Linked DNA regions of Homo sapiens. The protein of the gene in region 2 interacts with the protein of the main gene of each other region in a biochemical or structural test. Each region holds a gene or a part of one and is shown on either strand. Other genes may lie near its edges.

What was found.
Region 1: the proteins of PLEKHA1 (region 2) and CARD11 interact in a test that uses a peptide from one of them, tested with the Homo sapiens proteins (one large-scale study listed by IntAct).
Region 3: the proteins of PLEKHA1 (region 2) and HTRA3 interact in a test that uses a peptide from one of them, tested with the Homo sapiens proteins (one large-scale study listed by IntAct).
Region 4: the proteins of PLEKHA1 (region 2) and GRIP2 interact in a test that uses a peptide from one of them, tested with the Homo sapiens proteins (one large-scale study listed by IntAct).
Region 5: the proteins of PLEKHA1 (region 2) and MAST1 interact in a test that uses a peptide from one of them, tested with the Homo sapiens proteins (one large-scale study listed by IntAct).
Region 6: the proteins of PLEKHA1 (region 2) and SNTA1 interact in a test that uses a peptide from one of them, tested with the Homo sapiens proteins (one large-scale study listed by IntAct).
Region 7: the proteins of PLEKHA1 (region 2) and RHPN1 interact in a test that uses a peptide from one of them, tested with the Homo sapiens proteins (one large-scale study listed by IntAct).

Annotation. Positions count from the first base shown.
Region 1 is NC_000007.14:2,907,868-2,911,367, forward strand, and holds part of CARD11 (caspase recruitment domain-containing protein 11), read right to left. Parts: intron 2,299-3,500; coding exon 2,183-2,298; intron 1-2,182. UniProt on the Homo sapiens protein: Adapter protein that plays a key role in adaptive immune response by transducing the activation of NF-kappa-B downstream of T-cell receptor (TCR) and B-cell receptor (BCR) engagement.
Region 2 is NC_000010.11:122,426,708-122,429,776, forward strand, and holds part of PLEKHA1 (pleckstrin homology domain-containing family A member 1), read left to right. Parts: intron 1-234; coding exon 235-324; intron 325-1,374; coding exon of another isoform or gene 1,375-1,439; intron 1,440-1,550; coding exon of another isoform or gene 1,551-1,673; exon of another isoform or gene 1,674-1,713; intron 1,714-2,916; coding exon 2,917-3,069. UniProt on the Homo sapiens protein: Binds specifically to phosphatidylinositol 3,4-diphosphate (PtdIns3,4P2), but not to other phosphoinositides. May recruit other proteins to the plasma membrane.
Region 3 is NC_000004.12:8,283,254-8,286,753, reverse strand, and holds part of HTRA3 (serine protease HTRA3 isoform 1 precursor), read right to left. Parts: intron 194-3,500; coding exon 1-193. UniProt on the Homo sapiens protein: Serine protease that cleaves beta-casein/CSN2 as well as several extracellular matrix (ECM) proteoglycans such as decorin/DCN, biglycan/BGN and fibronectin/FN1.
Region 4 is NC_000003.12:14,491,975-14,495,342, reverse strand, and holds part of GRIP2 (glutamate receptor-interacting protein 2), read left to right. Parts: intron 1-353; coding exon 354-500; intron 501-1,516; coding exon 1,517-1,678; 3' UTR 1,679-3,368.
Region 5 is NC_000019.10:12,866,015-12,869,514, reverse strand, and holds part of MAST1 (microtubule-associated serine/threonine-protein kinase 1), read right to left. Parts: coding exon 3,413-3,500; intron 2,863-3,412; coding exon 2,753-2,862; intron 2,042-2,752; coding exon 1,863-2,041; intron 1,786-1,862; coding exon 1,538-1,785; intron 873-1,537; coding exon 666-872; intron 450-665; coding exon 220-449; intron 1-219. UniProt on the Homo sapiens protein: Microtubule-associated protein essential for correct brain development. Appears to link the dystrophin/utrophin network with microtubule filaments via the syntrophins. Phosphorylation of DMD or UTRN may modulate their affinities for associated proteins.
Region 6 is NC_000020.11:33,412,764-33,416,263, forward strand, and holds part of SNTA1 (alpha-1-syntrophin), read right to left. Parts: intron 1,872-3,500; exon of another isoform or gene 20-1,871; coding exon 1-19. UniProt on the Homo sapiens protein: Adapter protein that binds to and probably organizes the subcellular localization of a variety of membrane proteins. May link various receptors to the actin cytoskeleton and the extracellular matrix via the dystrophin glycoprotein complex.
Region 7 is NC_000008.11:143,378,876-143,381,798, reverse strand, and holds part of RHPN1 (rhophilin-1), read right to left. Parts: intron 2,888-2,923; coding exon 2,721-2,887; intron 2,485-2,720; coding exon 2,291-2,484; intron 1,971-2,290; coding exon 1,814-1,970; intron 1,738-1,813; coding exon 1,624-1,737; coding exon of another isoform or gene 1,468-1,623; exon of another isoform or gene 1,211-1,467; coding exon 1,016-1,210; intron 532-1,015; coding exon 455-531; intron 228-454; coding exon 81-227; intron 1-80. UniProt on the Homo sapiens protein: Has no enzymatic activity. May serve as a target for Rho, and interact with some cytoskeletal component upon Rho binding or relay a Rho signal to other molecules.

The DNA.
Region 1 (3,500 bases), on a different chromosome or scaffold from region 2:
AGCCAGGCATGGTGGTGGGCACCTGTAATCCCAGCTACTCGGGAGGCTGAGGTAGGAGAATCTCTTGAACCTGGGAGGTGGAGGCTGCAGTGAGCCGAGATCGTGCCACTGCACTTCAGCCTGGGTGACAGAGTGAGACTCCGTCTCAAAAAAAAAAAAATACTCCATACAGTATTTTTGTTGTGATACACACTGCACCATAAACACATTCCCAGGCAGGACAGATCAGGGAAGGGGGTATGTACCATGCTAGTATTTCTCATGCATTAAATGTATTATTGTTTCTTTGTTTCAACTCTTTTTTTGTTAACAGTTTGCAAGGTTTTCAGCTCTTGCCACCTTCCTAGCCTGTATGGATGGGCCCTATTGTGTGTATTCACTCCCCACAGACCGACCCTTAGGTGACGTCTACGTTTTGGCTATTGGGAGTAACGCTGCTGTGAACACGGGCGTGTATATGTCTCTTACAGACCCTGCTCTCAATTCTCTTGGGGATATGCCCGCAGGTGGGGTTGCTGGATTATATAGTATTCTATTTTTAATTTTTGGGGGCATCGCCATGCTGTCCTCCACAGTGGCCGCTCTCTTTTGCATTTCCAGCAGCTGTGCACCGGGTTCCGACGTCTACCCTCCTCGTCAACACTTGTCAGTTTCTGTCCTTTTGGTCCTGGCCAGCCTAACGGGTGTGAGGTATCGAGGGGGATGCCCGTCTCTTTTGCTCACTGCTGCGTTCCCCAGAGCCTAACCCTTCACAATGGCTCAGTGAGTATCTGGTGAAAAGGAATGAATGGGCCTAAACTCTCAGTCTGTGATTCCCTCTGCAAAATGGTGGCAGGACATTTATTTTGCAGGTGCGTGCGAGGAGGGGCGGGGATCCGAGATGAAGCCACTTAAGGGCCAGTCTGTCCTCATCACCCAGGCCCCAAACCTCAGCGCCGTCCTTTCGTTTTTTTTTTTTTGTTTTTTTTTTTCTGAGATGGAGTCTCACTCTGTCGCCCAGGCTGGAGTGCAGTGGCTCGATCTCAGCTCACTGCAACCTGCCCCTCCCACGTTCAAGCGATTCTCCTGCTTCTGCCTCCTGAGTAGCTGGGACTACAGGTGCCCGCCACCACGCCCAGCTAATTTTTTTTGTATTTTTAGTAGAGATGGGGTTTCACCATGTTGGCCAAGCTGGTCTCAAACTACCAACTTCAGCTGATGTGCCCACCTTGGCCTCCCAAAGTGTGGGGATTATAGGCGTGAGCCACCGCGCCCAGCCTCTGGTTCTCTGGAACCCCAGAGTGAACCCTTTCCCGAATCCTGCAGGCTCGACCCTGAACACGGATTCGGAGTCAGACTGCCTCTCATCGCCTCTCAGACAGAAGCCCGGCCCACACCGCCACCCTGCCCGTGTCCAGAGGTGAGAGGTGCGTTTATACCCTAAAGTGGACCATGCCACCTTCAGTGGCCTCCAGATGCACCCAGAACAAGATGTCGCAGCCTCCCGTGGCCCTGCATGGCCTGGACCCGCTGCCCCTCACCCCTCAGCCTCTCACTCTCCGTCCCTCACCCTCCGCCCCTCACTCCTCAGCCTCTCACCCCTCTGTCCCTCACCCTCTGCCCCTCACTCCCCAGCCTCTCACCCCTCCGCCCCTCACCCCTGCGCCCCTCACCCCTCCACCCCTCACCCTCTGCCTCTCACCCCTGCGCCCCTCACCCCTCAGCCTCTCACTCTCCGTCCCTCACCCTCCGCCCCTCACTCCTCAGCCTCTCACCCCTCTGTCCCTCACCACTCCGCCCCTCACCCCTCCGTCCCTCACCATTCCGCCCAAACATCTGTCTCAGGGTCTGAGCACCAGCTGTTCCCCTGCTGCCCAGATTGCGTCTTCTTTCTCATCTCCTAGGCCCCCCTCACTGCCATGGGTCTCGCTGATGGATACCCCAGGCCTTCCCGGACCACCCTGGGTGATGGGCACTCCGCCCCGTCCCTCCCAGCTCTTGTCCCCTGGGATGCGCCCCATATGTGAGTCACCATCTCGGCCGCTGTCCTTGGCATCAGCTCTGCAAGGTCAGTCCCGTACTTGGTGAGGGTTTACAAAAGGGGTGCATGAGGTGGGGGCACACAGGCCTCCTGCGATCCATGGAGGCTTGGTGGGGTGCTAGGGACAGGAGGGGACAGCCCTTAGGGGTCTGGGAGCCCTACCTGAACCTCTTGATGTTCTTCTCACACACCCGGATGAAGAGCACGATGGGGTAGATGTTGGACTTGATCAAGTCTCTTGTGCAGCCGATCCCAGCCTCCAGCAGGCAGTGCTTGTTCTGCGGGCACAGCGGCTTTGGTCAGCAGCAGCCCACCCACCTCCCGCTCCTGTGAAGGTGCCTGCAGCGGGGCCTGGATGCAGGGTTGGGGTCTATAGCGGGGCGGGAGCCCTGAAAGCCACCTGCCGCTGATCCAGGAGATGAGACCCCCACATGAGTCTGGACACTCCAGGACTCTGCTGACCACAGTGATGTTCATGGGCAGAGATGAGGCCCCGGACGGGGTGAACCAGGTGGCGTGAATGAGTTTGAATGAAACACCTGCTACCAGCCGGGCGTGGTGGCTCACGCCTGTAATCCCAGCACTTTGGGAGGCCCAGGCGGGCCGATCACTTGGGGTCAGGAGTTCGAGACCAGCCTGGCCAACACGGCAAAACCCTGTCTCTACTAAAAGTATAAAAATTAGCTGGGTGCGGTGGCCCACGCCTGTAATCCCAGCTACTCGGGAGGCTGAGGCAGGAGAATCACTTGAACCCGGGAGGTGGAGGTTGCGGTGAGCCGAGATGGTGCCACTGCATTCCAGCCTGGGTGACAGAGTGAGACACTGTCTCAAACACACACACACACACATACACACACACGCACACACACACACACCCCAAAACACCTGCTACCCTAGCCAGCCTTCAAGTAAGAGGGTAGGGAACACATGAAGGGTGAGGCGGCGAGGCTGGCAGGTCCCAGGAGTATCTGCAAGGTTCTCAACCATGAGCTCATCATTTTGAGAAAGGGCAATTTCTGCTTTGCTGAAGGCATCACTTAAAAAAAAATTCCACCAAATGTTGGCATGGTGGCTCATGCCAGCAATCCCAGCACTTTGGGAGGTGGGAGGATTGCTTGACGCTAGGAGTTCGAGACCAGCCTGGGCAATATAACAAGACCCTATCTCTAAAAAAATTAGAAAATCATTAGCTGGGCATGGTGGTGAGTAACTGTAGTCCCAGCTACTCGGGAGGCAGAGGCGGGAGAGTTGCTTCAGCCTAGAAGTCGCGGCTGCAGTAAGCCGGGATCATGCCCTGCACTCCAGGCTGGGCAACAGAGCGAGCCCCAGTCTCTAAATAAATAAAACATCAAACTTTGCATTGGAATAGAACATAAACACAGCATTCTAAGCATGCAGCTCAGTGAATTTCACAAACTGAACGCAGTCTAGCACTCGTGTCTGGAGGTGGGAATGACCCCCCTCGCCCAGGGTCTCCTTG
Region 2 (3,069 bases):
ACGCCTGTTGATGGGTCTGATCTTGACATTGAAGTGCTCAATTTATGTCTCTGTGTAGTTAAGACCTAGCAAAACCTGGCTTTAAAAAAATGATTTCTAAATTTTTTGGAAACAGTTGCCTTAGAGTGATTTTGTTGATGACAGTATTTTAAGTTATCAAAATAAATACATTGGCTGTATAGAAGTAGGTGATTTTGAGAAAAAATTGTTTGAATGAGTTCTTTTTTCCTTTAGGCTGATAGCCCTGAAGAGATGCACAGTTGGATTAAAGCAGTCTCTGGCGCCATTGTAGCACAGCGGGGTCCCGGCAGATCTGCGTCTTCTGTAGGTTTCCTGCTCTCTGGGGTGATACTCCCTTGCGTCTCCCCCATCCTATCAAATTTCCTCTCTCCCAATCCATCCGGTTTCTTTCTTTCTTGAGATTTATTTGCATGTTGACTTTTATACCAATTGGACTTGCAAAAAATAATGCATTTCTAATTTAATGCTTCCTTGTAGTATTATGTATACATAACTTTCTGTGCATTGTATTGTGTTAAATGCACAAGTAGGGCAACTAAAGAATAAACATTTCCTTGCTTTGTTTTAGGAGTTCTTACTTGTCAGTAGCTCTAGATTTGGCATAATCTGACAGATTCTTAGTATGGTGTGTGATCAGGATCATGTAAGACTTTTAGTTGTAGCGTTACACAGTTTTGTGAACGTCTCAATTTCCTCTTTACTTCCTCTGATTTCAGTTCAGGTTTTTTGGTTTTGTTTTGTTTTTTACCTTTGGCTTAACCATGCCATCAGATCACTGAGCAGCTGGGGCCTTAAATACAGTTCAGTGCTCCCAGTGTTTCCATTTCATGTTTTAATTCTCATTTTAAAACCTGCTTTAACAGCCTGCTTCTGAAAACTACCATAATTATCTTTGTGGTAGTATGATAATAAAATTGAAATACAACTAAACATTCTGCTCAGAAATATTTTTTTAAAAGATTTTTCTTGTGTTCAAGTACATAAGAATTAGATTTGCATTTGGAATACTTTGGCCACTGATCTCAGGTCTGAAAATTTAAAGTATCTTAAAATGTAACACTGCCATCTGCGGAAAGTAGTCTCATATGTAGCATGATAGCCTTTATTATCTAGATTTACTATGACATATATGCTAGTTACTTACACTTTTAATATTTTTTTCTGATAGTATTATAATACCGCCTTTTATTAGTTTTCTGGTAGTGATAACTACAGATAAATAAATAGAAATCAATGTTTCTGATTTCTTAGTTGTTAAGTCATTCTCTCTTTATATCCTTTTTGAAATATCTAAGAAGTCACTTTCATAGATGTTCATTTTGTAACTGCCTGTATTTTATGTGACTTTTTCAGCAGTCAAGTATGAGACTCTCTGCAAAAACAGTGTCTGTTGGGAAGAGGAAAAGTTGGAGAAGGATGTTTGTGTTTTGTGCTTTGTGGTGGGGGCAGATTGGACTATCTAGCTATGACTGTCAGCACAACTTTCTCTTTTCCTCCCTCTACCCAGTATAGGTTAACTCTAATCTTAGCTTTGCACTGTGTTCCAGATGCGGCAGGCCAGAAGGCTGTCGAACCCTTGTATACAGAGGTATACATCAAGAGCTGGTGAATGCAGCACGTATGTGGGCTCTCACGCAAACGTGCCTTCTTAGTGGAGGGCCCAGACTTACTACTTACAACTGATCATAGAAAGTTGAGTTAACCAAACTGCCTTTTGCAGTTATCATAACTGATTTTGTCAATACTAACGCAAACTGTTTCACTGTAGTCATCAGGTTGGATATGTGTATTTAAAAATAAAAAATAAAACATACAACTTTACTAACAGAAAGAGACATTAACATATAAAAATTAATATACTCAACTGCTGCAAGAGTTTCAATTTTATATTATGTATTTAAAAATTTTTAAGATACAATACTTACGAAATGCACCATTGTTCTAATAATATATGCAAACTAATGCATGCATATGCATTGGATAAACTGTACATTACTATAGTTTGCATGGCATTTAAAAATCTCTGAAATTTAGCCATCTAATAGGACTCTGTAGTGTTTTGGTAATTTGTAGCACTTTGATTTCAAAGCCACTGGTATCATAAATGAATATAATATACTAGTATATAGCAATGTATTTAGAATGGTCATATTTAAGGATATTTTCAGATTTGATCTAGTTAGAAGCATATTGAAATTAACATTCTCAACTACTAATTATTTCACCACAGTTTAAAATGTGATAAATGTGTACCCTTTGTTACCTTTAAAATATTAAGCCATATGAATATATGACCTATTCAGAACTAAAATTAAGTAAAAAATGAAAAGACTGTGCTATTATTGGTTGCAGTGAAATTCAGGGAAGTAAAAACTAAGTCTTATCAGCAGAATAATGTTTGAAAGATGATTCGTGCTTATTAAAGAAATATGGCCTTTCATTGTTATAGTCTATATTTTAATTTTTTTCATTCTAAAATATGTGGGATAATTCCTAGTGTTGACTGAGAATATACTCTTAAATAAAATGATACAGCTGGGAGGTTCTCTTTTAAACACAGTTCAGTTGCAGCTGGAACACTGTATTTCAGTTTAGGTTGGCTGAATCTTCAAAGTGTCATAGGCTGCCAAATTCAGCTTTGGTGACGGAACTGGTTTCCTAGTGGAAATGGTTTTTGGCTATCATTGCTTTAAACTCACCTCTAAAAACGCGTTGCTTTGGGAAAGAACTTGCACATTTATGCTGCATGGCTTCTGCTGCTGCCTTTGTGTGTGTGTGTGTGTGTGTGTGTGTGTGTGTGTGTTTTATTTGTTTTTCAGAGAATCAAGTCTCACACTGAGTTACTAACCTGGTCATGAGTGACTGACCGTGTCTGACTGCCACTCCTTTTTGCAGGAGCATCCCCCCGGTCCTTCAGAATCCAAACACGCTTTCCGTCCTACCAACGCAGCCACCGCCACCTCACATTCCACAGCCTCTCGCAGCAACTCTTTGGTCTCAACCTTTACCATGGAGAAGCGAGGATTTTACGAGTCTCTTGCCAAGGTC
Region 3 (3,500 bases), on a different chromosome or scaffold from region 2:
CGACTTCTTGTCGATGTCTTTGATGGTGGCCTCATAGGAGTCCCCATTCTGTAGCTGCACCTTGAGCTGCTGCCTGCCCGGGGCAGCACTGTTGCTGGACACCACGTGGGCATTGGTGATGATCAGGCCGGCCTCTGACATGATGAAGCCAGAACCGCTGGACAGGGGCACGTTGCGGCCAAACAGCGGGTGTCTGCAGCCAGGGAGACACAGGCGGGCATTTAGGGTGGGGCTAGGACGCGGGGGAGTCAGGCGCAGTGGTGGGGCTGGTCAGCGAGGAGCAGAGCCAGTGTGTGGCTGACAGAACACAGGTCTGGAGTCCCTCAAGCTCCCATTTGAATCCTGGCCCTGTGACCTGGCCAAGTCACCGGCGCCTGCACCCATTCACAGCCATAAAGAGGTGATGATGATCACCTCTCGCTGCAATTTGCTGAGATGAGACAGGCTGCCTGCGACATGTCAGATGACTCCCAGCTTGCACTCGCCATCCTGACTACGGAGCACGGAGCCAGACAGACCAGGATGCTAATCCCAAGTCCAGGACCCACTTATTATCTGCCTGACCGTGGGCAGGTCAGTGAAGCTCTCTGAGCCTTGGTCTCCCCATTTGGGAAATGGGACAACAACACCTCCTCCGCCGAGTGGTGATGCCTGGGCTCTAAAACGCCTCTCAACAAACAGGACAATAATTGGCCCTAGGGGAAAAGCCCCATTGCACACACAGCATCCTGCAGGGCTGCAGCAGGTACCCAGGAAGGGAGGCTCCCCAGAGGCTGGGGCAGATTCCTGATCATCCCGACAGGGTGAGTGCTGGGAGGGCTGAGAAGGCTTATTCCCACCTCCCTCTACCCTCACCCCCAGGCTAGCTGCCTAAAGCCCCAAATGTGGCAGTGCTGGCAGCAGGCAGATGCAGGACCCGAGCCCTGGACACCCCGAGGGCAGGGGTGCAGAGGCACAGATGAGGCCAGCCTGGGCCCTGCCCTCTGTGAACGGTGTGGAGCTGGCCTGGGTTTGCATTGGTGTCTGCCGATGGGCAACAATCCCCAGTTCTCACCAGAGCTCTCTGAGTAGAAACCACAGCCCCACATCCAGCAGGGGAGGAGGCTGAATGCCAGACACAGCCTGGGACCTTCTCCAGGGTGGGAACCTTCGGGACCCCAGCGTGGGGCCCAGCCCAGAGCAGGTACTCACTCCCTGAGGCTGCTTAGTAGAGATGAGCAAGGAAAATGTGCGAGGGACAAAGTATGGAGGGATGGAAACGTCTGGCACGTGCAGGCAGGTGAGAGCAAGAGACAAAGCATGGAGGGATGGGAGCGTCTGGCACGTGCAGGGAGGTGACAGTCTCTGCAAAGTACAGGAGCTTCGCTGTGACCCACAGGACCAGAGATGGCAGCGAATGCCACCCTGTGCTCCCTCTGAGGCAGGCAGGCCATTGAATGCTCATGGGCACCCTGCAAGGGGGGTGCTGTGGTGAGCTGTATCCCTGCCAAGAGATACGGCCAAGTCCTAACCCCATGTGACTGTGAATGTGACTTTATTTGGAAACAGGGTCTTTGCAGGTGTCCTGAAGTTACGGTGACATCAGAGTGTGTCTGTGTTGTCTTTAAGGGAGGGAAGTCCAGTCTCACAGAGGGGAAGGCCATGAGATGATGGAGACAGAGCAGAGAGAGGGGTCTAAGGGCCGAGGCGTACCAAGGACTGCGGAAAACACTAGAGCCAGTAGAGGGGCCTGGGACACTCCCCCAACATCCCCCAGAAGAAAGCAGCCCTGCTTGATTAGGACCTTGACACCTTGATTAGGACTTCCAGCCTCCAGAACCATGGGAGCAAACATCTCTGTCATTTTAAGCCATGCAGTCTGTGGTACTTTGTTATGGCAGCCACAAGAAACTACTGTCGTCCCTAACTCTCAGGTCTTTATGGTGGGAAAACTGAGTCCCGAGACGCTGAACTACTTGCCTAGGTCAGGCGGGCAGGCAAAGGGCAAAGCAGGGGTCTGCCCCAGGCAGCCTGGGCATCTGGCCACTTGGCCACCCCACACGGTGACCCCAGCATCTGTCCACTCACATCCGCAGCCAGCTTCTGCCACACCCACTCCGTGTGTGCCCCAGAGTAGGAACTGCACCTGTTTTGCCTGCGGAAGCCCCAGGGTGCCTCACAGGGCCAGGCACCTGCGGGGTCTGCAGAAAATGCCCGCGGCTGCCCACTGGCCTCCATGCCCACACTCAGACCTCAGGTCAGGGGTCACAGCCGGGAGGCCTGTGCTGGAAAAGCATCTGTCTCATCTTTGCTGGGTCTCACCCACCCACTCAGAGCATCAGTCACTGGAGGCTCTGAGGGCAGAAACGGCCTCCCAGCCGGGCTGGAGTCAGTAATTAGTTGGTTCAGAGCCTGGTGGCTGGGGCCTTCCAGAAAGATGCTGCCCCCATCCCTACCTCCTGGAAGGCCAGCAACGTGCCACTTAGTGCATCCAGTTATAATTTCCTCAATGACATGTCTCAGGGCCCGGGGCTCGAGGGAAGGGCAGTGAGGGGTCAGTGTGCTGCCAAGGGGGCAGTGAGAGGTCCATCAGCACGGGGCACCGGACAGGGTGGCAACCAGGGCTGTGGGTCCTGCATGGGTGGTGCCTCCAGGGCTGTTTTGAGAAACATGGGCTACACAGCCCACAGCCCAGGGAGCTCCCAGCAGGTGTGGAGGATGTGATGCTGAGGTGCTATATGCCCGTCACGCGCTCTCACACCCCTGTTCAAGGAGCACGACCTCTGCTGGAGAGCCCGGGATGGGGAGGGCAGAGGGGCCGTGACGCCTAGTGACAGGGGCTTGGACCAGACAAGCGCCGAGCCAGCCAGCAGGGAGGCGGTGCTGGAGCAGGAATCACTCCTGGGATCTCCCCATGAGCCACCAGATGCTCAGTCCCCAGGGCCGGGCCTAGGGCAGTGGAGCCTCGTCACAGGGAGGCTGGAGGCCTCAGGGAAAGTACCGTGAAAACAAGCAAGTCCCTGGAGCCCTGGCCTGCGGCCTCTGGTGACTGCTCATTGCCGGCTCCGTGTCCGCCTGGACCCGCCGTCTGATCCCTATCAGGGTGGAATGAGGCTTGGTTCCGGGGCCTCCTCATCAGGCTGTTTGCCGGCTCTGTGCACACCCAGGGACCAAAGGGCCAGCAAAGGTGGATGGGAGAAACACTCTAAACTTCAGAAGAGTCATTCAGTCTGCTTCTGCGGGATATAAGTCAATCTGGGATGAGCCCTCAGGATTCGGTGTGAGCGATCAGACATTGGGCAGCTTGCACAGCGGGAGGTTCTGAAGGCAGGGCTCCCCCAAACCAGCTCAGAGGGTCTCTGTGATGGGGGAAGTAGGAGAGGCTGGGGATGGTGGCAGGGACCGGGGCAGGCCCTGTGGGAAGAAGGGGAGGAGGCTTTGCCTGTGCATCTGCAAGGAGAGGCCTTGCTCGGGGGTGAAGCCACACGGTACACACCACTTCCTCTACGGGGCTGGGACAT
Region 4 (3,368 bases), on a different chromosome or scaffold from region 2:
CTGAGCAGCTCTTTGGTAAATGGGAATGAGTGACGGTCAGGGGAGGTAACAGTGCCCTGGCCAGGCCTCCTCCCTGATAGAGCCAGAGGACAGAGAAAGGGCTGAAAGGAAGTCACTCCTAAGGGCTCCGTCGTACTTGAGTGTTGTGGCCTGGAGCATCTGCTGAGGGAGGTTGGCAGGGAGCGGGGTGGCGGGGGTGGCTGAAGGCCCAGGGGCAAGAGGCTGGGGTGCTGCAGCCTGGGGGGTGTGGCTGGCCAGAGGCGCTGAATGCCAGACCAAAGGACCTGGGCTACTGTGAGAGGCTGGGGGCAAAGGTCAGAGTTCCAGGAACCTCCTCCTCCTTCTGCTTCCAGGTGACCCTGCACAAGGACCCCATGCGGCATGACTTTGGTTTCAGCGTCTCAGATGGCCTCCTGGAAAAAGGTGTCTATGTCCACACTGTGCGCCCTGATGGGCCAGCCCACCGTGGAGGCCTCCAGCCCTTCGACAGGGTCCTGCAGGTAATGCTGGGGCAGGGGCTCCATAGTGGGGGTGGCATTGTTTCCTAGCCTGAGGGTGGGGAAAGAGCCTGCATCTATCGCCTGTGAAGAGGGCAGGACAATGCAAGTCTGAGTCAGGTTAGCCAAAGTTGCATTGCGGGCCCCAGCACCCTCAGCCTCAGAGGCTGAGCACACACAGACCTTTCTTCTTACACCCCATGCCCATTGTGGGCTGGTGGGGGCCTTCTTGTCCCGGGCTGATGGAGCATCCGCCCATCTTGGAATTGACCCTCTGAGACACGTGGCCTCCTCAGACTCCACAGCAGAGGAGACAGACTGGAAAGTCACACGTGGATTTTTTCCGCCTTCACCCAGAAGCAACACTCATCACCTTGCTTCACAGCCGATGGACCAAACCCCTCATGTGACCTTCCTAACTAACTGTGAGGGAGCCTGGGAAGCGTGGGACATCGTGTACTGGGCACTCCGTGCCGCCCCTTCTCATGCCCTGGCTATTTTTGCTCCCTCAGTGTGTTTTTTGCCATATTTATATGAAATTTACTCAATTCATGTTTTCTCTAAATTGATGGCACTTTTTCAATTTACATTTGACTTTGAAAGGAAACTTTTTGTCTCCATTAGGAGTGAAAATCTTGCACCCCTTGCTTTGAAATAGAAAGTGGGTGTAAAATGCAAATAAAATAGAAAGAAGACAATGTCACATCACACAGTTCTAGGCAGGAGGCTCTCTGAGTGTGTGGTCTGCTCTTTCATGTGAGAAAGGGAGAAAAGCAAGAGTTAGAGGGGTATGAAAGGTATACCTGCCCCTTCCTAGAACTTTCTCTTTGATGAAACCTAACAGAAGGACTGAGAGAGAGTTAGAGGAAGAATGTTCCTCTGTGTGTGGTGCTGGTGATGTCAGGGCTTGCGTCAAGGCTGGGGCAGGACCCATCTTTAGGACATCACATGCCTCTTGCTCCCTTCAGCGCAGCAGGGCTGACATCTCGGTTCTGTTCCCTTGCTTGTGCCCCATGCAGGTCAACCACGTCCGTACACGGGACTTCGACTGCTGCCTGGCGGTGCCACTCCTGGCCGAGGCGGGTGATGTCTTGGAGCTGATCATCAGCCGCAAGCCGCACACGGCACACAGCAGCCGGGCCCCCCGATCGCCAGGCCCCAGCAGTCCCCGGATGCTCTGAAGTCAGCATGTGGGCCGAACTCCTAAGGGGCCACCCAGGCAGATCCTGGCTCCCAGACACGTAGCTGGGCTGGAGAAGCGGCCACCCACTCATTCATCTGTTGGTCTGGCAGACTCTGAGCCTGGGATGATGCTTGGTCTCTGTTCCCCAGGTCTGTGGTGACTGGGGTGCCAGGCAGGGAGGTCCTGCCCTAGTTGGAGTGACAGCTGGGGTCTCTCGCCAAGTTGGGTCTCCAAGATGCCCAGAGGAGCCTCCCTTAAGAAGGGTTGGCACAGGCTGCTCAGCCGAGAGGAGAGAGGCCTGGGGGCTGTCCCAGGTCTCTGTGGGGCCTCCTTGGAGAGGTCGAAGATGTAGGGAGCACTTCCTCCCAGCAAAGCCATGGAGCTGGAATGAGCTGCAAGGAGGAGTGAGTTCTCGGTCACAGGAGGTGAGCAGGCAGGAGCTGGATACCCCAGCGCAGTCATGCATTGGGGTATGAGGCATTCCCATGATGCGTGCACACGCGCTTGGGGGTTGGCTTCCTGATGGGGAGCCACTTCATCTAGAGACTCGGCCACCAGGAAGGATGCTGCTTCGGATGGGAGCCCAGCTCCTTCGCTTCTCCAGAATAGGGGTTTGGGGCTTGCTAGTCCTGAGATTCTGAGATTCCCAGAATCTGGTCCCCACTTATGAGACTCTTAAGTTGGGGCGTCTGGGATCCCAGGAAGTGCTGGCCCTTTGATTCTGAAAGTGGGTGATTCTTTGATTTCAGCATCTCAGTCTGAAGCTTCTGGGACTTGAGACTGTGGTTCTGGGCCCATTGGGCAGGCTCTATGGGCCTTGGGCTCTCAGCCCTCCTGCTTCTTCTGTAGGCCGTGTGGCCACTGACCCATCTGCACGTCCGCTCAGCCCAAGCCCCTCCATGTGGGAGGGGTCATTTTGGGGCAAAAGACCCTGGAGCTTCCATTCACCTGCCATCCAGTGAAAATTGAAAAGCGATGGACGCAGGACCTGTGAGGCGGTAGCGCTCCTCTTTACAGCCAGATCAGTGGAGGAAGAGGAGAAAGAGGGAGGGAGATGGGAGAGAAATGGGCCAGAGAAAAAGATGGGACACTCTTGCCCAGTGGAGGGTGTCCAAAGTGCTTATTCAAAGAAGTCTATTCCCACTTGAAATCTGGAAGCACCAGCATCCCTTAAAATCATTGTCCTCAGTGTCCACAAATCAGAGACCCTCTTCATTTTGAGAAGGGTGTGGGCCTCCCCTGGTGGTCTAGTGAGTGGTGCCTGGGATGGAGTGGGCGGGCAGGTGTAGCCAGGGCTGGGGATGTGCTTTGCCTGGCCCAGTTCTCACAGGGGTCTCAGGAAAACGGGGCACCCACTCCCACCTCCATCTGTCTCCAACCTGGGGTCCCTGGAGGCCAGAAAAGTGCTCTTCCATTTGAGGGAACAGATGAGGAGTCAAGAGGTCTGTTCTTTTCACCCTGGGTCTGTTACCTGTTTGCTGTGTGACCCTGTCTGGGTTGGACCCCCAGCCCCTCTGGACGATCACGGGTGGACAGTCTGAGCAGACACAGGCCTCCTGGTCAGGGCCGGAACCATCTCTGCCGACCCACCAAGGCCCCCTTGGGGACCTGCCCACGCTGTCTCCTGGAGGCCTGCCTCCCTTACCCCTCCCCTCCACTTCGCTGGGCTCTGCCCCTTGGTGCCCTCC
Region 5 (3,500 bases), on a different chromosome or scaffold from region 2:
TTGCAGTGAGCCGAGATCCTGCCACTGCACTCCGGCCTGGCGACACAGTGAGTCTCCGCCTAAAATAAAAAAGTAAAAGAAAAAAGAAACAGGTTTAGAGAGGGAAGAGGCATAGAGGGTCACAGAGGTGTCTCACCCAGGCTAACTGGTTTGAGCTGGAGGGGCCTTTTCCCCACCACCCTCCACTCTGTGATGGAGACTCCACCCATGAGTACTCACCCAGACAATGTGGTGGACACTATAGACATCCGTGTCACCCATGTAGACACGGATGGCACGCAGTGTGAAGCCATACTTCTTGCCCGAGCGCTGGATGGTGATGGGGGAGCGGAGCCCACTGACAGCTGGTGAGTAGTCCCGGCTGGGTGAGGAGTCCCGTGAGGATGGGTTGGAGGACAGAGATCGTGGAGACATGGGACTAGCAAGGGGTGAACTTCCATGTGGGTCCACTACAGACACACAACCATGGTCAGAAATCAGAACCAAGAAGATAGACATCTCCCTGTATCTGCTCCTCCCTCCTCCCAAGGCAGTGGCAGAGCAGCCTCTCATTGGTCCAGCCTGGAGCCAATCACGGTGGACAGGGAAAATGCAGCATTTTCATTGGTCTGTCCTGCCTCAAATGGGGGGCAGCCCCTCCCCTGCCAGGTGGGGCCCAGCATTACCTGCAGGAATCATGACAGATAAGGCAGTGGCTGAGGCTGATTTGATGACTTTGCCCCCAGTTCGAGAAGGCCTCTTCTCTACTGCCACATCCCCTGACATCTGCTGGTGCCGCGCCCGGCGCAGAACCAAGTCATTGGTAGCCCTTGGGCCTGATGCATCCCCATCCTTCGAGGGTGGGCAGAGGTCACCTGGGCGTGGACGGTCAGCTGCAACAGAAAGCAAGTGTGTTAGGAATTAGTCCAAGGCCAGGGATTTCCCACATACTGTTTCCCTGCCTGGAATGCTCTTTCCACTTTTTACCCTTGATGGATGGTGAGTTTCATCTGAGCAGGTAACCTGCATGCCTCACTGCTCCTCATATAGAGACATAGTCTGTATCGGTCTGTATCACTGACTGACCATGGTATTGGGGTGTTTCTAATGTTAAGAATCCCAAATTGGGCTGGGTGTGGTGGCTCACGACTGTAACCCCAGCACTTTGGTAGGCCAAGGAAGGCAGATCACTTGAGGTCAGGAGTTCGAGACCAGCCTTGCCAACATGAAGAAACCCTGTCTCTACTAAAAATACAAAAATTAGCCGGGGGTAGTGGCGCGCGCCTGTAATCCCAGCTACTCGGGAGGCTGAGGTGCGAGAACCACTTGAACTTGGGAGGTGGAGGTTGCAGTGAGCCGAGATCACGCCACTGCACTCCATCCTGGGTGATGGAGTGAGACTCTGTCTCAAAAAAAAAAAAAAAAAAAAAAATCCCAAATTGCAATGTGAATAGGACCTGAGATCTTTCATAAACAGCACCAGGCTCGTGGGATGCTCACTATATGACCAGTAGGACATTGGGGAAGATTGGGGAAGGCAGCACGATAGGGCACTCACTGGCCTCGGAGTCCCCGGCGCTGGAGGTGCCTTCCCCTTGAGTCTCCTCTTTGGGGGCCCGTGCATCCAGGGATCCCGCGGGGTCGGAGCTGGGCCGGGGAGGCCTGCGCAGCCGGGCCTCATCCTCGTCCTCTTGGGGGGCGCTGAAGCGGCTGGGCTCCAGCAGCGCCGAGAAACGGCGGCGGGCGCCCAAAGGGGGACTGGCCTCTCCCTCCAGGAAACTGGCCTCGGACGCGGAGAATCGCTTGCTGCATGGAGGGGGCGTGGTTATGGAAGACACGCCCCCTTCGACCCCGCCCCCAAACTCCGCCATTCCCCTGCTCACATCTCCGGAGAGCCCCCTCTCCAGGTCTTCTCACGCAGGGTCAGGCCGCCCAGCCCCTCCCGCTTGCCGGCCACCTTCTCCTCGGGGCCCTTGGTGCTCGGCTCCCGCTTGCTGCTCCCTGCAGCTGCTACTGGGGTCTTGGGCTCGTGCTGCGACAGCTGCTCCATGCTGCTATACACCTGTAGGTGGTGGTGGGAGGCAAGTCCAGCCCGGGTTCCACTTTCACTCCGGAGCTAATCAGCTTCCTGGCAGTGGATCCCCCGCAAAACGCACTCCACCCTCCGAGGCCTGGCTCCGCCCAATTGTGCATGATCCCCCAACCTACAATTCTTCAGTTCAGGCCCCACACCACAAAGTTAGGCACTGCGTTTTATTCTAGGCTCTGCCCCGACGATGCCCTGACCAATCTGCTCTCTACACAGCCCCATCTTCCCAGCAACCCCCTTAATTTATGTCTCCTTAGCCCAGGCTAGGCCCTGCACGCCTCTACAAGTTGCTTCTCAAAGCAAGGCCTATGGCTTCTCTGCCCGTTATTAGAAAAAATAAAAATAAATAAATAAAAGCAAGACTTCGCTGGGCTTTACTCCGCCTTCGCTGCTGGCCTCATTCCCACGTCCTGACCCCGCCCCACCCACACCTAGCCCCGCCCCACCATGGCCTCAATCTGCACAACTGTCCTGATTCCTGTTAGATTCCACTCAGTGCCAAAGGCCCGTCCCATAGACTCCCGAACCTGCCTCTTGCGTGGCCTTACCACCTTCCAGACTCCCGCCCCATCAATAACTTCCCGCTCCTGAGACCTTGGGCACCAGGGAACCTGTTTCTCACTGTCTCTCCAAGCCCCATCCCTCCTGGGGTCTCGCCCTGTCCCACACCCAGACTTGGCCCACCTTGCTGAAGCGCGGAGAGCAGGAAGAGAACTGGCGGATTTCCACGGGCTCCTCCTCCGTCGTGTCATCCTCGTCATAGGAGTTCACGTGGTGATACCTGTCTGAGCGGGCTGGGGAGCGGGTATGGGCTGTGACTGAGGGTACGGGGTTCCTCCTCATATCACATCCCCACAGGAGCCCAGTCCTGGTTCAAGACGGGTTTACAAGTCTTCAGGTCAGGCCACGCCCCTGCCTCATTAGTGTATTTAATTTAGGCTCCGCTCCCAGGCAAGGTCCTTGCCCCATTCTCAGTGGCACCGTCTAGCCCCGCCTCCAAAGAGGCCACGCTCCACCTACAGTGCTCTGCACCCTGGCATCACCCCAGGCCATTCTGAGCGCTAGTACCTCTCTCTAGTTCAGTTCCAGGCCCACACTCACAACTCACCCAGGCCAGGCCCCACACCTAGCCCAATCTCAGGTTCTTACCTACATTTCAGCCTGAGCCCCGCCTGTATGTCAGCCCCGCCCCACTTGGCCCCGCCCCCACCAAAATACCACCTTCGCACCTAGGCATCACATCTTGGTACTTAGCCAGGCCCTATCCCAGGCTTTACTTACCCCAGGGTCCCTCTTCCCGGATCCCACCCCTCGACCCAGGTCGTGCCTGGTGTCCCAGCTCACTGTCAAAGTAGCTAGTGTCATCTTCCGACTCTAGGTGGGGGATGAACTCGGCCTTCTGCCTCAGCAGCCCTGTCCAGTCCAGGTCTCG
Region 6 (3,500 bases), on a different chromosome or scaffold from region 2:
CGAGCAGATCTCCAGATACCTGCAGGCACAAATGGGTGGAGACAAGGACCTGACCATTAGGCTGCAGCTGCCCAACCCTGGCCCAAGAAACCCCACCCACCACCAAACCAGGAGAAACCAGGGGGATGTCCGTGAGAGAATCAGGAGCAACCCTCACTGCTGGGCTCCAGCCACAGTTGCTGGGGCTTCATGGGGCATAGGAACAAGCGAGTGTGACATATACACACGTGTTCATATATTTTGTGGGGTTTTTGTTGTTGTTTTTGAAACAGAGCCTCGCTCTGTCACCCAGGCTGCACTGCAATGGCCCAACCTCTGCCTCCCAGGTTCAAGTGATTCTCCTGCCTCAGCCTCCCAAGTAGCTGGGATTACAGGCACACGCCACCACACCCATATAATTTTTGTATTTTTAATAGAGATGGGGTTTCACCATGTTGGCCAGGATGGTCTCGATCTCCTGACCCCGTGATCCGCCTGCCTCAGCCTCCCAAAGTGCTGGGATTACAGGCATGAGCCACCATGCCTGGCCTTATTTTTTTATTTTTAGTAGAGATGGGGTTTCACCAAGTTGGCCAGGCTGGTCTCGAACTCCTGACCTCAAATGATCACCCCGCCTTCGCCCTCCAAAGTGCTGGGATTACAGGCATGAGCCACCGTGCCCAGCCTACACGTATGCAGATACACACAAATATACACACACACTGAAACATGCATGATGGTGTAATAGGGCCTAAATTATTGCTGTGTGGCTATTCCTAATCTTGCCCCTTTCTCCTGGTTTCTAAGGAACATCCTCTTCTGGGCCAGCTCCCAGGTTCTCCTTGTTGCACAGAACCAAACTAATTCACTAATAAGAGCAGGGGAAAAAAAAAAAAAAAACTAAGCTGGACATGGTGGCTCACGCCTGTAATCCCAGAACTTCGGGAGACTGAGCCAGGACGATGGCTTGAGCCCAGGAGTTCGAGACCAGCCTGGACAACAAAGTGAGACACTCATCTCTAAAAAAGAAAAAAAAATTTTTTTTTTAATTAGCCAGGCATGGTGACACGTGCCTATAGTCCCAGCTACTTAGAGGCTGAGGCAGGAGAACCACTTGAGCCCAGGAGTTTGAGGCTGCAGTAAGCTATAAGGGTGCCAGTGCACTCCAGCCTAGATGACAGCACAAGACCTCATCTTAAAAAAACAGAAAAACAGACAGGGTGTGATGGCTCACGCCTGTAATCCCAGCACTTTGGGAAGCCAAAGCGGGTGGATCACCTGAGGTAGGGAGTTCAAGACCAGCCTGATCAACATGGAGAAACCCCATCTCTACTAAAAATACAAAATTAGCTGGGTGTGGTGGCACATGCCTGTAATCCCAGCTACTAGGGAGGCTGAGGCAGGAGAATCGCTTGAACCCAGAAAGTGGAGGTTGTAGTGAGCTGAGATCGTGCCATTGCACTCCAGCCTGGGCAACAAAAGCGAAACTCCGTCTCAAAAACCAAAAAAAAAAAAAAAAAAAAAAAAAAACAGAAAAACAAAACAACAACAAAACTAAAGAGGCTTGAGGCCAGGCATGGTGGCTCACACCTGTAATCCCAGCACTTTGGGAAGCTGAGCCGGGCAGATCACTTGAGGCCAGGAGTTCAAAACCAACCTAGCCAACAGGGCAAAACCCCATCTCCTCTAAAAACACAAAAAATTAGCCAGACGTCATGGCGGGCACCTGTGGTCCCAGCTACTTGGGAGGCTGAGGCACCAGAATCACTTGAACCTGGGAAGCAGAGGTTGCAGTGAGCTGAGATCACACCACTGCACTCCAGCCTGGGTGACAGAGCGAGATCCCCCATCTCAAAAAGAAATAATAAATTATTGTTTTCTAAACCACTAAATTTTAGGGTTGGTTTGTGATACAGCAACAGATAGCCAAAATACTAGCAGAAAAGACTCTTTGGCTTTTGTCTTATTTCTGCCTGGAATATGAACACAATTCTTGGGATGCAGCCACCATCCTGCCTCCACGAAGAAGAAAACCGCCCATAATTAAAATGGTAGAGCAGGAAGCTAGAAGCCTAGTTCCTTGATGGCATCCTTGAGCATCTACAGCAGCCTGAATAGCTGACCCCTGGACTTCTTTTTAAACATGTGGGAAAATTAACCCCTTTTATTTAAGTCATTGCTTGTTGGAGTTTCTGTACTTGCAGCCCAGTGCAATCCTAACACTGAGTAAAAGTTTGAAGCAGTTTTCATTATATTTTGGTTGCCAGGCTGTATCCCTATGACTGGGATACTGCACTGACAGTGGGCCATATGGAACCCCAGTTATATTGAGGTTACCTATGTAGGTACTCAGGCATGTACATGTTAAAACACACATGCACACACATATGTGCATACACATACAAATAACATATAAACAAACACACATGTACAAATCTATACTCATACATGCAAATGCTCTCATATATACATACAAGCACTTGCATTTACATGTCATCTACACGTGCGCACACTTAGAAACATATACACACGTTTCAGGTAATGTCTGGGATCAGGCTGGGAATCTAAGGTTCTATGAGTCTCTAGAAGGACTAATACTACTTCACCTTCACACTCACAGAAGGCCCTTCCGGGCCGGGCATGGTGGCTCACCCCTGTAATCCCAGCACTTTGGGAGCCCAAGGTGGGTGGATCTTGAGGTCAGGAGTTTGAGATCAGCCTGGCCAATGTGGTGAAACCCTGTCTCTAGTAAAAATACAGCCGGGCGCGGTGGCTCATGCCTGTAATCCTAGCACTTTGGGAGGCCGAGGCAGGCAGAATGCCTGAGCTCAAGAGTTCAAGACCAGCCTGGGCAACATGGTGAACCCCCGTCTCTGCTAAAATACAAAAAAAAAAAAAATTAGTCAGGCATGGCGGCGTGCACCTGTAGTCCCAGCTACTCAGGAGGCTGAGGCAGGAGAATTGCCTGAACCTAGGAGGCGGAGGTTGCAGTGAGCTGAGATTGTACCACTGCACTCCATCCAGCCTGGCAACAGAGAAGACTCTGTCCCAAAAAAAAAAAAAATACAAAAATTAGTCTATTAAAAATACAGGCGATGGCTCATGCCTGTAATCCTAGCACTTCAGGAGGCCAAGGTGGGCGGATCACCTGAGGTCAGGAGTTCCAAACCAGCCTGACCAACATGGTGAAACCCCATCTCTAATAAAAATACAAAATTAGCTGGGCATGTTGGCAGGTGCCTGTAATCCCAGCTACTCAGAAGTCTGAGGCAGGAGAATCGCTTGAACCCGGGAGAAGGGGACCGCAGTGAGCCAAGATTACACCACTGCACTCCAGCCTGGGCAACAGAGCGATACTCCGTCTCAAAAACAAAAACAAAGGCTCTTTTTTAGAGCATCGGCAAGTGACCTGTGAATCACCAGTTTTTGCCTCATGGGGGCAGGCAAGAGGTGTGGCATCGAGTGAGACCAAGAGATTTGGATGCTGGACGTTAACCAGCCCTCCCAGCCAATGTTGGGCA
Region 7 (2,923 bases), on a different chromosome or scaffold from region 2:
AGACTTGGACGGTGAGGTGGGGACAGGACACCCTGGCTGGCACCAAGGACTCAGCCTCAGGGGGCCGGCGGGGCCCTTACCGCGGCCTGGCTCCCTGGAATGACGGCAGCGATGAGGACAGGCGAGTCTCCCCGAAGCGTGAGGCCAAAGCCGCCCTCTCCTCGGGTCAGGTGGACGGGCCCCACCAGCCGCCACCGGTTCTTGGCTGAGAACACAGACAGGGGCCCCTGGCAGGGGCTCAGAGGTCAGAGGCCCAGCTGGGCCACACACTGAGGAGACCCCGCCTGACTAGCACATCCATCCAACCTGTGCACCGAGGGACACCGTGGGGTTCCACAAGGTGGGTGGGGAGGGCTGGACCACCATCAATGGCCTGTCTGAGGCCATGTGCTGGTCAGAGCCACACAGCCCAAGCTGCCCATGCTGGGCGGTGCCTGGGGACGGGTGTGCTCACCAGCCGATGGAAGATGTCAGGCCCCTTCCCCTGGGACAGGCGTGGCATCCTGGCCTCTGGCTTCTGGTGGGTCTTAGCTGAGAGGGTGTAAGAGCAGAGCTAAGCTGGGAGACTGTGGAGACCTGCCTCGGGGATTTTCCAGGGCGCAGGGCATGACCCTGAGTGCACACAGGCCCCGCTTCTGACCTCCAGGCCTGGCCACTCTGCAATGGTGGGAGGAGCTGCCCCAGGTGTGCCCTGAACACACGGCCCCCTCTGCCCCAAGTGGCTCCCAAAATCCCTCCCTGAAGTCCCAGCCATGCCTGTCCTGGGTCTGTGGGCTTCCCCTCAGGGTAGGAGGCCAGTGCAGGGAGGGAGGTGCTGAGGAGCGTGGTCATCCCCCAGGCCCCTGAAGGGCCCAGCAGCTCTGTGGGTCCCTGTGATCGTGGCCTGGAAAGTGCTACTGCTGTTTAATTCATCGTGGTGACTGCATCTTTAATGCAATCAGCCTCCCTTTCTCCAGGACGAAGGCCCCCACCCTGGCCAGGGATGCAGCCACCCAGACAGGCCCTGGCTGCTCACGCTGGATGTCCGGGGCCTCGGCAGCCTCACAGAAGTCATCCTCACGGTCGAGCTCCGCATACTTGGCCAGTGAGCGCTGCAGCGTCTGGGAGATCACAGCCCGAAGCAGGTCCACCTCGCGCAGGACGCGGCACAGGGCGTGCAGCCGCAGCGCCTCCTCCTGCCCCAGGATGGCACGCTTCAGGTGTGCCTTGCCTGCACGCGGGGCACTGGGATGTCACACACCATGTGGGCCCGTGGGCCCTGGGACGTGGCAGAAGGAGTGGGCAACGCCAGGGCTGTGGGGCTCATCACAGCCACTTTCGTTGGGGGTGCGCGCCACGGGGGTGAGGAGCTGGCTGTGCAGGAGGGCTCTGCCACGTGCAAAGCAGGGGCCAGGGATGAGCTGCTCCCAGTGGTCTCCCACCTGCTCAGAGGCTGCCCAGCACTCCTGGGGCCCCTGCGCTGGGCCGTCACCCATCAGGCACAGGCCATCCAGGGATAGGTAGGTGGCCCAACTCGTCAGCACGGGGACAGCAGGTGGCAAACAGCATGAGGGTGGTGGGGGACACCCTGCCACCGTTGGTGACCATCTGAGCCCCAGGGCACTCCACCCATGGGCGCCTTACCAAGCTGCCTGCGCTCCTCCAGCTCCTGCGGCAGCACAGGGCCTCGGGGCTTAGAGGAGGTGGGGGGCTGCAGGAAGACCTGCTCGTGCGTGGGGAGCTCTCCCTCGGTCGCTGCTGGGGGACAGAGAGGCTGTGAGCCCTGCGCGGGGGGGCCTTGGCAGTACCATGGGCAAGTGTGGTGGGCACTCACGGGAGCCGTCGCAGAGGGCCATGGCTACGTGGTAGTGGGCCAGGGAGCGGAAGTACTCGGCCTTGACATGCACCAGGGCAGTCCAGGAGACAGGCACGTAGTCGTGGACGGGTGGCTGGGCCATGGTCCGGTGCACTAGCCTGTACTCGGCTGCCACCTGCCGGTGGATGTGGCAGGCACGCGAGGGCCTCCCACTCTCCAGGTGGTGCCTGCTTCTCCCTACCCAGCCTCCACCTGCTCCGACCACCATCCCAGCAGCCTCCCTGGCACCTCAGTTCCTGCTGCTTTGTGCCATCCCCTGGAGGCAGAGGCTCGGGTCCCCAGGTTCCTGACCAGCCCCCCCAGGGAGCAGGACAACAGCTGGCTCGGGGCTGACACACAAGGAAGGAGGTGGGAGAGCTCACGCATGCCTGGACCTGGGCTCTGACCCCAGCTCGGCCCCACCCCCTGCATCCTGACACGGGTGCCCGAGCTCACCTGGGCGGCCTCCTGCGCCAGGCGCAGCTGGGCCAGGCAGTCTTGGGGGGCCATGGAGGCAGGTGGTGAGAGGCCCTCAAACACACATTCCTGGGCCTGGGCCATCATGAGCTGCTCCAGTGCGCAGAGGGACGCAGCGCTCATGTCTGGGCTCGGCGCATGGGAGAAGTTCTCCCTCAGGAGGCTGAAGGCCCCTGCGGAGGGAGGGGTGCTCACACAGGCAGGGCCCTGTACCTGCCCATCTCTGCCCCATGCAGCACTCAGGGCGGCCAGCTAGGGATGCTCCTGGGACACATATGGACCTGATGTGCTCACTCCCCCTACCTGAGGGACTGATGTCCTAACCACTCCCCAGCTCCTGCCCTGCAAAAGGGGCTCTGCAACACCCTGGCACCGCGCCGTGCCCCACCGCGGCCCGGGCCGCCCTCACCAGCGGCCCTCTGGAAGGCCTCCATAGCGCGGCGGGCACCCTCGGTGCAGGAGCGGTCCTGGCGCGCCCCAATCTGCGTGTGGAGGGCACCGATGTTGAAGAGAACGCTGCCCTTCTCGAAGGCCAGGGCACGCTGCTGGGCCGGGACCCCAGTAAGCGAGTCGTACCTGCAGTGTTGGGTCAGGCTGGGTGGAGTTCCCACG